Linked DNA regions of Homo sapiens. Changing the gene in region 3 together with the main gene of any one other region gives a genetic interaction. Each region holds a gene or a part of one and is shown on either strand. Other genes may lie near its edges.

Region 1 (3,507 bases), on a different chromosome or scaffold from region 3:
GTGGCTCACTCTGGCTGAGTTGGTTATCTTTTAATGGAAATACAAATAACTGACTTAAGGATTTTTTTGTCGTAGGAAAGTTTGTTGCCAGTTGACAGAGTGTCTTCCCTGGAGTCGCATGCCTTAGTGTGTAAGTGTGTGGTCTCCAAAGGTATTGCACACTGATCTCCAAGTACTGACCCTCCCACCCCCGTGCTCCACTCTAGACCTGGTGGCTTTAGATCTGGAGTTAGAGACCAGCAACGGCAGAAGATTACAGGGTCTTTTTTTTTTAAGACATGGTCTCACTGTGTCGCCCAGACTGGAGTGCAGTGGCATGATCTCGGCTCACTGCAGCCTTGACCTCCTGGGGTCAGGTGATTCTCCCACCTCAATCTCCCGAGTAGCTGCTTGTGTGCCACCATGCCCAGTTAATTTTTTGTATTTTCAGTAGAGATGGGGTTTCGCCATGTTGCCCAGGCACGTTTTGAACTCCTGGATTCAAGCAATCCGCCCTCTTTGGCCTCCCAAAGTGCTGGGATTACAGGCATAAGCCACTGTGCCCAGACAGCTGCAGGGTCTTAAACAGTCAAAACATTCCCACCTCAGTGCCTGCCTCTGTGGTGGGTTGCCTCAGAGCTTCCTGTGGCTTCCTGTCCTGTGTCTCACCTTCTTTCTTCCTCAAATCTTTCCTCTATCTGCTCTTAATGTCAAATATAGTCACAGTATTTTGGCCTTAGAGAATATTTGTTTTTAAATTAAAAATTGATAACCTTGGAGTCATTTATGACTTCTTTTTTCTCTCACAACTGACATTATCTTTGAAATATATCTAGAATCCAGCTATATATAGGGCCTGCCTGGATAATCTGGGATAATCACATCTTGAGCTCCTGAACTTAATTAAGTCTACAAAGACCCCTTTCCCAAATAAGGTGACATTCACAGGTTTTGAGGGTTAGGATGTTGTGGGGCACCATGCCACCTGCCGCACCACTGTCTGTGTTAGCTACCAAGCGCGCAGTGGCCGGCATTCATCAAGCGTCTTTGGTTTTAGACAGCTGCGTCTGTCTTTGGAGGTTTGTCCTTCGTGTACTCCTGACCGAGGGAATGTTATCTTGACATTTGGGCTTCTGGGTTCTAGATGTGGTTACAAGGTGGGGTGATCCCTTCTTAGGAAAAGTCCAGCCTCTTCTGTGCTCTCTCCCTTATGTGGCTTTTTGGACATTTGTTACATGGTGTTTAATTTCTGAATATTATTTTAGGCCCCTGTTTGCAATTTTTTTTTTTTAACAGTGACCAGGGACCATTCCATTGTATGTTTGGACATTTTTCTTTTCTTTTCTTTTTTTTTTTTTGAGACAGAGTCTCGCTCTATTGCCCAGGCTGGAGTGCAGTGGCGTGATCTCGGCTTACTGCAAGCTCCGACTCCGCCTCCTGGGTTCACGCTATTCTCCTGCCTCAGCCTCCCGAGTAGCTGGGACTACAGGCGCCCACCACCACACCTGGCTAATTTTTTTGTATTTTTAGTAAGGATGGAGTTCACCGTGTTAGCCAGGATGGTCTCGATCTCCTGACCTTGTGATCTGCCCGCCTCGGCCTCTCAAAGTGCTGGATTACAGGCATGAGCCACCGCGCCTGGCCCATTTTTCTTATTTTTAACTGAGATCTGTTAGCAGTTTGAAGCGATTGTATACATTTCAGAGTTAGCTGGGCATGGTGGTGCGTGCTTCTAGTCCTAGCTACTTGGGAGACAGGCCAGAGGATCGCTTGAGCCCAGGAATTTGAGGCTGCGGTGAGCCATGTTTGTGCCACTTCACTCCAGTCTGGGCGACAGAGTGAGACCCTGTCTCAAAAAACAAAAAACAAAAAAAAACAATTTCAGGGTTGAAATTTTTAGCAGAGCCTTGGAACTGACAACCACCTGTTTGGATAGTAACTTTAACTCAATCTGTAGCTTGCCATTTGTGGGCACTGTCAGTTCACCTAGACCAGTCAGCAAGCTCTAAACATCCAGGTTAATGAGAAGGGCCGTCAGAAGTCATTTTGAAGTTGAGGAGCTGAGGGCTGGTTTTGCTGTGACTGGCCATGATCAGTGTAACTGTTTAGTAGCACAGCTCGGACCAATATTAGCATGTCTGATGACTCCTGCTTTACCAAGTACTTAGGGAAGGCAGACACCATCTGTTCACATGGAAGCAGGGAGTTTGTCCCTAAAATTATGCTTCTGAGAAAGCCTTTGCCATATAATTAAATAAAAATGTCACTTTAGCATTCTAAGAATTGAGTAAGTAAGCTATACACTAGAAATTTTTAGTATAGTCTTATTCCAAAATTAAATTCCTATTCTGAGAACTTGATACCCAGCACTGTCTTTGCTTCTCCTGTAGTCTGTTCTGTCCTTTGGGGATCCTGGGTTGTCTAGTGTGGAGTATGGAGGAGTTGGGCTGTTTTCATCAGTGAGCAAACATTTACGGAGGACCTATTACATGCCAGTTACTGCTGAAGGGGCTTGGGTTATGTCAGAGAGCAAAGATCCCAACCCTTTGAGAGTTTACATTCTGTCAAGAAGAGATAGACAATAGACAAATAATGTTAGGTGACAAGTGCTATGGAAAAAAGAAAAAGAGAAGGATAAGGGAAATGGAAGAACTGTAACATTTCACATATTTTATTATAAAAGTGCAATATGTATCAAAGTAGACAGAATATTATAAAGAGACCCTACAAACCTTTCACCCAACTACAGCAATTAGGTGAACTGCCCAATCTTGCTTCTCTATACCCCTCATTCTCCCCAGTCTTATATTATTTTGAAGCAAATCTCAGACATATAATTTATCCACGAATGGATGTTATGGACTGAACATTTGTGTCCCTCCCTACACACCGAAGCCCTGACTCCCAGTGTGCTAAGAATAGGAGATGGGCCTTTGAGAAGTACCAGGGCTAGATGAGGTCAGGAGGGTGGGCCCTTTATTATTGGATTAGATGAGGAAGAGTGAGAGGACACCTCCCCCTTGAAACGAGGAAAGGCCACCTGAGGATAACAGCAAGGAAGTGGCTGTCTGCAGTCTGTAACACAGGCCTCACCAGAAACCTAATCTACTGACACCTTGATCTCGGGCTTCTTGACCTACAGAGCTATGAGAAAATACATTGCGATTTTTTTTTTCTTTCTTAGGGTCTTTTCAGAGAGAAAACAAAAAACTGTTTTCTAAGCCACCCAGTCTATGGCATTTTTTTTTCTTTTTAAAAATTTCTTTCTTTTTTTTTTTCTTTCATGGTATTTTTTAATTACACCTAAAACGTTTCTTTCTTTCTTTTGTTTTTGTTTTTGTTTTTGAGATGGAGTTTCGCTCTTGTTGCCCAAGCTGGAGTGCAGTGGCACAATCTCAGCTCACTGCAACCTCCGCCTCTCGGGTTCAAGCAACTCTTCTGCCTCAGCTTCCCAAGTAGCTGGGATTACAGGCACATGGCACCATGCCTGGCTAAATTTTTTTTTTTTTTTTTTTTTTTTGAGATGGA
Region 2 (3,507 bases), on a different chromosome or scaffold from region 3:
CATCAGTTTGGGTGTGAAGCATATTCAGAATTCTTTTGGACAAGCATGACAGTCTTAACTTTGCCGTCCCCTCCAGGTTCCTTCTTCAGTGCAGTCACCGGCACAGCAGCAGGTACCTGCCAGACCTGGGGCTCCCTCTGTTCAAGTGCCATCTCCTTTTCTACTTCAAAACCAATATGAGCCTGTTCAGCCCCACTGGTTTTACTGCAAGGAGGTAGAATACAAACAACTGTGGATGCCTTTTAGTGTGTTCGACTCTTTGAATCTTGAAGAAATCTATAATTCAGGTAAACATTGGTCATACATCATTCATATCTGATTTTAGGAAGAGAAGGAATGAGATCATTTATTCATGATCTATTTTCTGTGAATGTCAAATACCTTAATCCTTATAGACCCCAGACTCTGTACCTTAAGGTGACGATATTAGTATAAGTCCTGAGTTACCTGGGTAAGGTATTTGAAGAAATGTTTTAGTAATTTACTTCGTAGTTTAAAGGTATTTTGAATCAGAGAAGTTGAGCAGTTCATATAATCCAGGTTTCAATTTTTCTGTTTCCCTTGTTCATTTGTAGTTATGGGGGCATTTATAAAGGGCATTCTGTGGAACTCTCTATCCTGGAGATGCTCTGTGAAAAAAGGGTTCCCTGGTCAGATGAGTTTTGGAAATGCTGCTCTCTGTATCTAGGTCTTGAGAGAGATGGTGTGCAGGAGTACATTAATGCTTTGAGAAGTCCTGCAGTGTAGAAATGTGTTTCTTTGTTTATCCTGATATATTATTATATCACTGTATTATTGTATGTAGATATTATTGTTCTGATAAAAAAAATCCATCAGTTCTTTGAATTATGTTTTTAAAGTTTGCCCTAGCTGTTTCTTTTCTACTTAAGAGTCATAATTTTGAGCAGCACAGATTAATCTTAAACTTCTATTTTGAAATAAAAATGAGCCTAGTTTTTTGTCTTTAAAGATTGAGTAGTCACCGTATTCATTATTTATTATTTCATTTTTATTTTCTTGAGACAGAGTCTCACTCTGCTGCCCAGGCTGGAGAGCAGTAGCGCAATCTGGACTCACTGCAACCTCTGCTTCTTGGGTTCAAACTACTATGCCTCAGCCTCCCAAGTAGCTGGGATTATAGGCGTGTGCCACCACGCCTGGCTAATTGTTGTATTTTTAGTAGACAGGGAGGTTTCACCATTGGCCAGGCTGGTCTCAAACTCCTGACCGCAAGTGATCCACCTCTCTCGGCCTCCCAGGGTGCTGGGATTACAGGCATGAGCCACTGCGCCCAGCAGATTATTTATTATTTTACAATATGCCTTGCAGCAGTTAGGAAAAGTGTTAATTTTGTTCTCTAGTTCAGCCAGATCCGGAGAGCGTGGTTCTTGGCACGGATGGAGGGCGCTACGATGTTTACCTCTATGACCGAATAAGGAAGGCTGCCTACTGGGAAGAGGAGCCAGCCGAAGTGAGACGCTGTACTTGGTTTTACAAGGGGGACACAGATAGTCGATTTATTCCCTATACTGAGGAGTTCAGTGAAAAACTAGAGGTACGGGTGCTTTATTTCTTTATGAGTTTCTTTAAAAAATGTAGGTCCTATATACATTGGTGAGTAACATCATTCACAGTGGAGCGGACTTTACTTACAAGACAGCTTGTTTTGATGCTGTTCACAGAGAAGATTACTTTTTAAGTGGTGTCATCACTCATGAGGTGCTAATCGTGGCATCTGTGTCTAAAGATAGAATATGATTTGCAGAGACACATCACAGATCTAATAAGGTGCTTGTGTCAAGCCTTCAATAGAACCTAGGCCGCTGGGATTTGTTGTTGATAGAAGATGCCAAGCATATGGACATTTTCAAATTAGTATTCAGTAAAAGGCTTGAAATTAACCTCTGATTTGTGAAAATAAATAAATAGAATTGGAAGAAGTGTCTTGAGTCTTATTAGCCATCTTAAATCTATAATTTCTTCAAGAAATTATATGTTGTTTTATATAATTGTGTTAAATGCTTGTGTTAATTCTACTTAAGAGTTGAATGTTAGATATTTGAAATACGTTCAGTGAATTCAGTTGCATAGATAGGAAATGAGATACAGAACATTTTAGTTAACTTCTGGCTGGGTGTGGTGGCTCGTGCCTATAATCCCAGCACTATGGGAGGCCTAGGTGAGCAGATCACTTGAGGCCAGGAGTTTTGAGACCAGCCTGACCAACATGGCGAAACCATGTCTCTACTAAAAATACAAAAACTAGCCAGGCGTGGTGGCACACGCTAGTAGTCCGAGCTACTCGGGAGGCTGAAGAGGAAGGATCACCTGTGCCAGGGAAGTTGAGGCTGCAGGGAGCTGAGATCATGCCACTGCACTCCAGCCTGGGCAATGGGAATGAGACCCTTCCTCAGAAAAAAAAAAAGTATATATTTGTATATGTGCATATATGTGTGTGTGTATATATATAAAGAAAAAAGTGTAAAGGAATGCTGATATCTATAGCTTAATTTTAGATATAAATAAACAAATAAAGATATATTGTAATTTTTGGTACCTTTTTGGTAGGCCCCTACGAAGCTATCATGTCCCCAGATTAAATGTTTAGTTTTACTATTTTGAAGCTGAAGTATATATTTTCAAGTCCAAGCAGTGTCTGAAAGTCTACACTTTCTCTTAACTATATTTGATTTTATATGGGTGACATAGACTTTGAAGCGGGATAGATATCCACATACTGACCACTGCAGCAACACATGGCTACCTAGGGAGACCTTAGCTTTTGTTCGGCTTCTTCCAGGAAACTCAAACCAGATCAGGGAAGAGGCAGAGGAGGTTAGGAAGTGAGAAAGCCGATAATAGAAAGGGAACAAAATGATACGTATTGCTCAGCATCCTGTTGGTGATCCTCTTCTGTCAGAGCACTAAGACAAAACAACGGAAGGGTTGGAGACAGAGAACACCTTTAATTTGATGAAGACATGATTATTGTCTACGTGGAAAATCAGGAGAACCTCTAGAAATATTAGCACCAATACAAGAGTTTTTTTGCAAGTCCGTGTATATAAAATTAACATACGTAAATTAGTAACATTCCTGTGCCATAGAAATAACCAATTAAAAATAGAAAAAGAAGATACTATGTATTTATAACAGAGAGACTATATATTTATAAAACTACAGGCAATGTAGGAAAAAAGCCCAAGAAAAGTACCGGTAAACTTTATGGAACACTGAAGAACGTAAAAGGTGACCTCAAGAAATGGAGCTAGGCTGGGCGTGGTGGCTCCTGCCTGTAATCCCAGCACTCTGGGAGGCCAAGGTGGGTGGGTTGCTTCAGCTCAGGAGTTCCAGACCAGCCTGGACAACATGGAAAAACCCCGTCTCTACAAAAAATACACACAAAAAAATTAGCTGGGCATGGTGGCCCATGCCTGTGGTCTTAGCTACTCAGGAGGCAGAGGCAGTAGGATTGCTTGAGCCTGGGATCTTGAGGCTGCAGTGAAC
Region 3 (3,507 bases):
TTTAAATATATACAGGCTTAAAAAATTATTTACACTACCCACTCTTATAAACATCCTCTCCTAGCCCTGTGCCAGAATCTCATTGCTATAGTAATTTAAGCATCTGCTCAATGGCATATGTGCAGCATTCATGAGCAAGAGAATGGAAAACATGCTTTTAACTTCTGTTTTGTATGGTTTCTCTGATCTTTTATTTTTGTGTGTATAGTTACCATAAATATATTTTCTATAGGAACATCTGCTCAGCAATTGGATGCAACATTTAGTACGAATGCTTCCCTTGAGATATTTGAATTAGACCTCTCTGATCCATCCTTGGATATGAAATCTTGTGCCACATTCTCCTCTTCTCACAGGTATGAGGTTCAGCTTTAAATTCATGTGATTATTTAATTATATATTGTTCTTGATTCCTAATTTGTCTATAATTATGCCATTATTAGAAACTACAAGGAATACCATCAAGAACATGAAATATTTTGTGAAAAAGCATGTGAGTGAATTTTTATGGAAGTAAAAGTAGTGTTTATGTGTTCTATTGACTTTTTTTTTTCTTTTTTTTTTTTGAGACAGAATCTTACTTCATAGCTCAGGCTGGAGTGCAGTGGCACGATCTCGGCTCACTGCAACCTCCACCTTCCAGGCTCAAGCAATTCTTGTGCCTCAGCCTCCCGAGTAGCTGGGATTACAGGTGCACACCACCTTGCCCAGCTAATTTTGTGTCTTTAGTAGCGACAGGGTTTTGCCATGTTGGCCAGGCTGGTTTTGAACTCTTGACCTCAAGCAATCCACCCACCTTAGCCTCCCAAAGTGCTGAGATTATAGGCATGAGGAATCACGCTTGGCCAGTATGTTCTGTTGGCTTTTTTATTGCTGTTACATGTAAGGTAGGAAGGAGAGGCTGTAGTTTCTAGCATTTTTTTCTGTTTTTTTGGTGTGTGTGTGGTTTTTTTTGTTTTTGTTTTTTTTTTGAGATGGAGTTTCACTCTTGTTGCCCAGGCTGGAGTGCAATGGCGCAATCTCGGCTCACCACAACCTCTGCCTCCTAGGTTCTAGCAATTCTCCTGCCTCAGCCTCCCGAGTAGCTGGGATTACAGGCATGTGCCACCATGCCTGGCTAATTTTGTATAGAGTTCTTTTTTCTATCTCCTTTATTGTGCCTGTTTACAAAAAGGTAGATGTGACTAGAAAAGGAGTAGTCATCGTAAGTATTAATAGTGATTATCTCTGAATGGTAGCTTATTTTTATTTTCTTCTGTTACGATATTTAGAAATATATCTCACAGTTTTGTTGACACGATTTCTAATACACTAGGTAACTAGGTATTTGGATCATACTTTCAAGTACTTATGCCCTATTGTAATGCAGAGAAAGGAGGTCTTCATTTCAGTAATAAAATAAGCTTTATTGCCTCAATATATTAGCAGGGTTTAAAGAGATTGCTCTTTAGCTGACAGAATATAGCTCAAATCATGCAGTTTCATGGGACCGCTCATATTCTTCAGAGCTGTCACAGTGGGATGGGAACCCCAGATACCTTTTGTCTAGTAGTTTTTCTGCTTACTACCATCTGTATCATCGTATACCTTTCTGCCTTCATATTTCATCTCCATTCTGGACCATATATTTTATTCTCTAATAGTAGGGGTACTTGTTATAATCTTGATGTCATTTTTCTACCATTAGAATACATTCTTTTTCTTAGAAAATTTCACATGACTCCTTTAACACCTTTACTATTTAACAGACCACTTGTTAGTGACCCCCCCTTTTTTTTTTTTTCAGACAAAGGTCAAAGCATGAGACCCTTCTATAGTCAAATAAAGAGTGTTTTTACCTTTCGAGGGAAGTGATTGATTAGCTCTATTTTACAATGAACCAGAGGCAATTTAAGAAGATTAAGTAACTTAGGGTCTCACAGTTTCTAAATGGTAAAATCATTCTTAAGCTCATATTTTTTGACACACAACTCAAGTATATTTTGTTACACTACCTTACAAGAGTTTTTACTCTTTAAGGATTACAAAATCACATATGCAAATATGAGTATAAATAAAAAATGAAATACTATTACACCAAAGTCATACATAGTTACCAGGAGTGGTGGGAAAGTAATATATTTGGATTGTTTATGAAAACATTAAAAATTAAGTGTATAATTTCAATTTTTTGTCTACATTTATTTGACTTTAAGAATGAATGATTTTATTCATTTTCTCCTGTAGGTACCACAAGTTGATTTGGGGGCCTTATAAAATGGATTCCAAAGGAGATGTCTCTGGAGTTCTGATTGCAGGTGGTGAAAATGGAAATATTATTCTCTATGATCCTTCTAAAATTATAGCTGGAGACAAGGAAGTTGTGATTGCCCAGAATGACAAGCATACTGGCCCAGTGAGAGCCTTGGATGTGAACATTTTCCAGGTTAAGACTTTAACATTTCATAATTCTTAGACTATGTGCTGCTCATTTGAAATCAGTATATGAATCTACTATGCCTCAGTTTTGGAATTGAAAGTTAAAAAACTGTGGCTATACAGGTTGACGAGTGTTTGTTTAAAGAATGGTGGGTTCAGAGTTGAGATCAGGGTTAAAAATACTACCTCCATGAAAAGGATCCGGCTGATAGGTTTTTGTTTTTGTTTTTGTTTTTGTTTTTTTGAGACGGAGTCTCGCTCTGTCACCAGGCTGGAGTGCAGTGGCATGATCTTGGCTCACTGCAACCTCTGCCTCCTGGGTTCAAGTGATTCTCCTGCCTCAGCCTCCCGAGTAGCTGGGATTACAGGCGCCTGCCACCACGCCCAGCTAATTTTTGTACTTTTAGTAGAGATGGGGTTTCACCATGTTGGCCAGAATGGTCTCGATCTCTTGACCTTGTGATCCGCCCGCCTCGGCCTCCCAAAGTGCTGGGATTACAGACGTGAGCCACTGTGCCCAGCTGGCTAATAGGTTTAAGTCTGAAGATGTCACGCCATTTGATTAGACATTTTATAAACATTAAGATCCCTATAGGTTGGAAACCTTGCCTTTTAAAAGTTCATGCTAGGTCAGCATTAGGCTGGTGCTGTGATGTCCAGGTTAATTCACTGTTTTATTAATTGAGAAATTTTATGTTTATGACAGAGATTAATACTCTATGAAATAATTAGAAATTAAATGTAATGGCTGGGCATGTGGCTCACACCTGTGTAATCCCAGCACTTTGAGAGGCCGAGGCAGACAGATCATGAGGTCAGGAGTTCGAGACCAGCCTGGCCAACGTGGTGAAACCCCGTCTCTACTAAAAATACAAAAATTAGCCGGGCATGGTGGCAGGCACCTGTAATCCCAGCTATTCGGGAGTCTGAGGCAGGAGAATCGCTTGAACCCGGGAGGCGGAGATCGCAGTGAGTTGAGATCGTGCCATTGCACTCCAGCCTGGGCAACGAGCAAAACTCAAAAAAAGAAAAAAGAAATGTAATGCAGATTTAACAAATAGTCAATTAAGATTCTTTGTACTGTTGCCT
Region 4 (3,507 bases), on a different chromosome or scaffold from region 3:
TGTCATGTCATTTGTGGCTTTCTTAAATTGACGGTCAGATGGTCTTTTCCAGCTGTAGGTCTTAAAATGCTAAAATCAGCATTCATAATATCTGTTTATTATTAGAGTAGATGCAATGCATTTTGAGCTATTAGAATAAAAAATGAAAGTTATATATAACTTAAAGACATCCTAGAATTCAACTAGGATTTCTATCTCCTAGGAACTAAACATATTTTCTAGGTAAATTATGCCATTATTATGGACCAATGTTGTAATGAAACTAGTGAGATGGTAAATTTGTAAAAATAAATTTCATTCACGGGGGACTGGAAAGCACCATTTCTTTCCTTAGAAAATAATTCCCCAAACTCCTACACTGGATAAATGACTTGCCTTTTTAAGGAAGTCTGGCTTTCTTAGAGGCTAGTGTTACTGTTTTACAGTTCACTTTCGTTTACATCAGGGGTGTCCAATCTTTTGGCTTCCCTGGGCCACATCAGAAGAAGAATTATCTCAAGCCACACATAAAATACACTAACACTAAGATAGGTGATGAGCTAAAAAAAAAAAATGCAAAAAAAAACTCATAATGTTTTAAGAAAGTTTATGAATTTGTGTAAGGCTTCATTCAAAGTGCTCCTGGGTTGCATGCGGCCCACGAGCCATGAGTTGGACAAGCTTGATTTACATGAAAAGATATGCTTTTTATTCATGTTTTTAATCTTGCTGCTGCTTTCTCATTCAATACTTTTTCTAAAAATATCTCAGAACAGGAATAAAAGTCAGATGATCAATTATGGCAAGATTAGTATTTAAAAACGAGTTAAAATTAGGTAGTCTGAAATTGCAGTAGTGGTGGGGTCTACCTGCCAGATGTGCCCACCAAGAGGTTTATGTGACATTGATTTCTCTGTCAGTTTCTCCTCACCCCAAAACTACCTTTCTTGATACTTTTGTGGCCTTCTTCCTTGCCCTTTGACCTGGCAACTGTACTTTCATGCCTTAAAAATTTATAAAACAAAGGAAAAAAAATCCGATTCTCAAATGCAATTATAAGTAACTATGATAATCAGGATGTAAATTTTTTCAGTATACAGGAAAGAGAAACACTTTTAACTTTTAAAGGAGGCCAGCCAGGTGCTAAGTGGCTCACGCCTGTAATCCCAGCACTTTGGGAGGCTGAGGTGGGCGGATTACCTGAGGTCAGGAGTTCGAGACCAGCCTGGCCAACATGGCGAAACCCCATCTCTACTAAAAATACAAAAATTAGCTGGGCGTGGTGGCATGTGCCTGTAATCCCAGCTACTCAGGAGGCTGAGACAGGAGAATTGCTTGAACCCAGGAGGCGGAGGTTGCAGTGAGCCGAGTCCCACCATTGCACTCCAGCCTGGGGAACAAGAGCAAAACTTTGTCTCAGAAAAAAATAAAAATAAATAAATAAAAATAAATAAATAAAGGAGGCCAAAGCATGCTTTACACAAAGGAAGCCCTGTTTGGTAAGGGAGTGAGACCCGTTGGTTTATAGTTAACACTGTCTTATGTTTTTTCGATTGAATTGCTAATGAGTAGTTTTCTTTGGCTCTAAATAACAATGTTACATAAGTAGGTTGAGAGCCTATATTACCTAGTATAAACTCAGTGCTGCTGCAGTTGATAAATGGAGCTATGATACAAAAACAGATGGCTCAAGTGGGATTTCAGATTGATTATCTGAGGGTTGTTACTCACCTGAGTATGTCTCCTCTTTGTCACAGAGCTGGTAACAGAGAGCAAGCTGTTTTTGGCTCAGAGCTCTACAGCAATATTCCTCAAACTGCCTGGTAAAGGATCAGTTTTTGTTTTTAATTTTTATTTCAATCCATACCAATACACTTATAAAAATGAAATAGTAGGAAAATGAAGTGAAAAAAAGACATAGAAAATACAAGCCCAAATGTATTGTTAAATTCAACAGATAAAAAATTACTACTATAATTGTAATAATCATATTGCTCTAAAAATTTCTGAAGGCTTTATCTCAGTTGCCATACTTTTCTTATTGCAGACCAGTTTGAGTTATAATGCCACATTTTTCATGTATTAAAACAGCAAAGCAGGCCAGGCGTGGTGGCTCACGCCTGTAATCCCAGCACTTTGGGAGGCCGAGGCAGGCGAATCATCTGAGGTCGGGAGTTCGAGACCACCCTGACCAACACGGAGAAACCCTGTGTCTACTGAAAATACAAAATTATTTGGGCGTGGTGGCACGTGCCTGTAATCCCAGCTACTTGGGGGGCTGAGGCAGGAGAATCGCTTGAACCTGGGAGGCGGAGGTTGCAGTGAACCAACATTGCGCCATTGCACTCCAGCCTGGGCAGCAAGAGCAAAACTCCCTCTCAAAAAAACAAAAAACAAACAAACAAAAACAGCAAAACTGGATGTAGTGGCACACACTGGTTAGTCCCAGCTACTCCAAATGCTGATGTGGGAGGATCACTTGAGCCCAGGAGTTCAGGGTTGCAGTGAGCTATGAGTGTGCCTGTGAATAGCCACTGGCAACATAAGGAGACCTACTCCCTAAAATAACCAACAGCATAAATCCATAAGTTGGCAGATGAAAGTAGTGCTATTCTTAGGATGATTTTAAAGATGAATATGATTAATAATGCACTGATTTCAAAAGGGACTGTCTGAGACAGTATCATTCAAAGTCAATGTTACTACTTGAACAAGCTATTAAAATCCAAATCTCTTCTGTTAAATGACCTTCTAGGATTGTTGTGAGGTTGAAATAATATAAGCACAGGCTTAACACTATGTCTAGAACATAATAAAAACTTTCAAAAATATTGAGGCAGATTCTCAATACTGATTAGAAAAACTTGTAAAGATTTTCATTTTTATAACTTTGTTCTAATTTATAATTGTTAAACCTTTTATTTGGAAACAGACTTAATAATGGGAAGCTCCTCCCCCTCCTCCCCTTCGCAGTCATGGAAACTTCTCGGCAATTTGTTTGGAATCCAAAGGTCTTGTTGTGGGGTTTGGTTTGCATTACTATTTACCATTCTATTTGGAGAGGCCAGGGCTTTTCCTCTACCCTCCCTGCTTTATACTATTTTTCTTAGTATTTAACTCTCTTTTCTTCATTATACTTACTCTCATTTTAAGCTTTGTTTTGTTCTTTCGTGTTTTAAAGTTTTGTGTCTGTATTAGTCCATTCTTACACTGCTAATAAAGACATTTCTGAGACTGGGTAATTTATAAACGAAAGAGGTTTGATTGACTCACAATTCAGCATAGCTGGGGAGGCCTAAGGAAACTTACAATCATGGCAGAAGAGGAGGCAAACACATCCTTCTTCATGGGGCGGCAGGATGGAGAAGTGCTGAGCAAAAGGGGGAAAGCCCCTTATAAAACCATCAGATCTCGTGAGAACTCACTGTCACAAGAACAGCAAGAACTCACTATCACAAGAACAGCATGACCTCCCACCAGGTCCCTCGCATGGGAACTACAACTCAAGATGAGATTTGGGTGGGGACA

The links.
Region 1: changes in SEC31A (region 3) and TRAPPC10 together harm fitness less than expected from each alone (positive genetic interaction), as found in Homo sapiens cells (one large-scale study listed by BioGRID).
Region 2: changes in SEC31A (region 3) and SEC23IP together harm fitness less than expected from each alone (positive genetic interaction), as found in Homo sapiens cells (one large-scale study listed by BioGRID).
Region 4: changes in SEC31A (region 3) and SLC39A9 together harm fitness more than expected from each alone (negative genetic interaction), as found in Homo sapiens cells (one large-scale study listed by BioGRID).

Annotation. Positions count from the first base shown.
Region 1 is NC_000021.9:44,018,802-44,022,308, forward strand, and holds part of TRAPPC10 (trafficking protein particle complex subunit 10), read left to right. Parts: intron 1-3,507. UniProt on the Homo sapiens protein: Specific subunit of the TRAPP (transport protein particle) II complex, a highly conserved vesicle tethering complex that functions in late Golgi trafficking as a membrane tether.
Region 2 is NC_000010.11:119,902,723-119,906,229, forward strand, and holds part of SEC23IP (SEC23-interacting protein), read left to right. Parts: intron 1-76; coding exon 77-287; intron 288-1,361; coding exon 1,362-1,555; intron 1,556-3,507. UniProt on the Homo sapiens protein: Plays a role in the organization of endoplasmic reticulum exit sites. Specifically binds to phosphatidylinositol 3-phosphate (PI(3)P), phosphatidylinositol 4-phosphate (PI(4)P) and phosphatidylinositol 5-phosphate (PI(5)P).
Region 3 is NC_000004.12:82,877,648-82,881,154, reverse strand, and holds part of SEC31A (protein transport protein Sec31A), read left to right. Parts: intron 1-232; coding exon 233-356; intron 357-2,226; coding exon 2,227-2,425; intron 2,426-3,507. UniProt on the Homo sapiens protein: Component of the coat protein complex II (COPII) which promotes the formation of transport vesicles from the endoplasmic reticulum (ER).
Region 4 is NC_000014.9:69,401,685-69,405,191, forward strand, and holds part of SLC39A9 (zinc transporter ZIP9), read left to right. Parts: intron 1-3,507. UniProt on the Homo sapiens protein: Transports zinc ions across cell and organelle membranes into the cytoplasm and regulates intracellular zinc homeostasis. Participates in the zinc ions efflux out of the secretory compartments.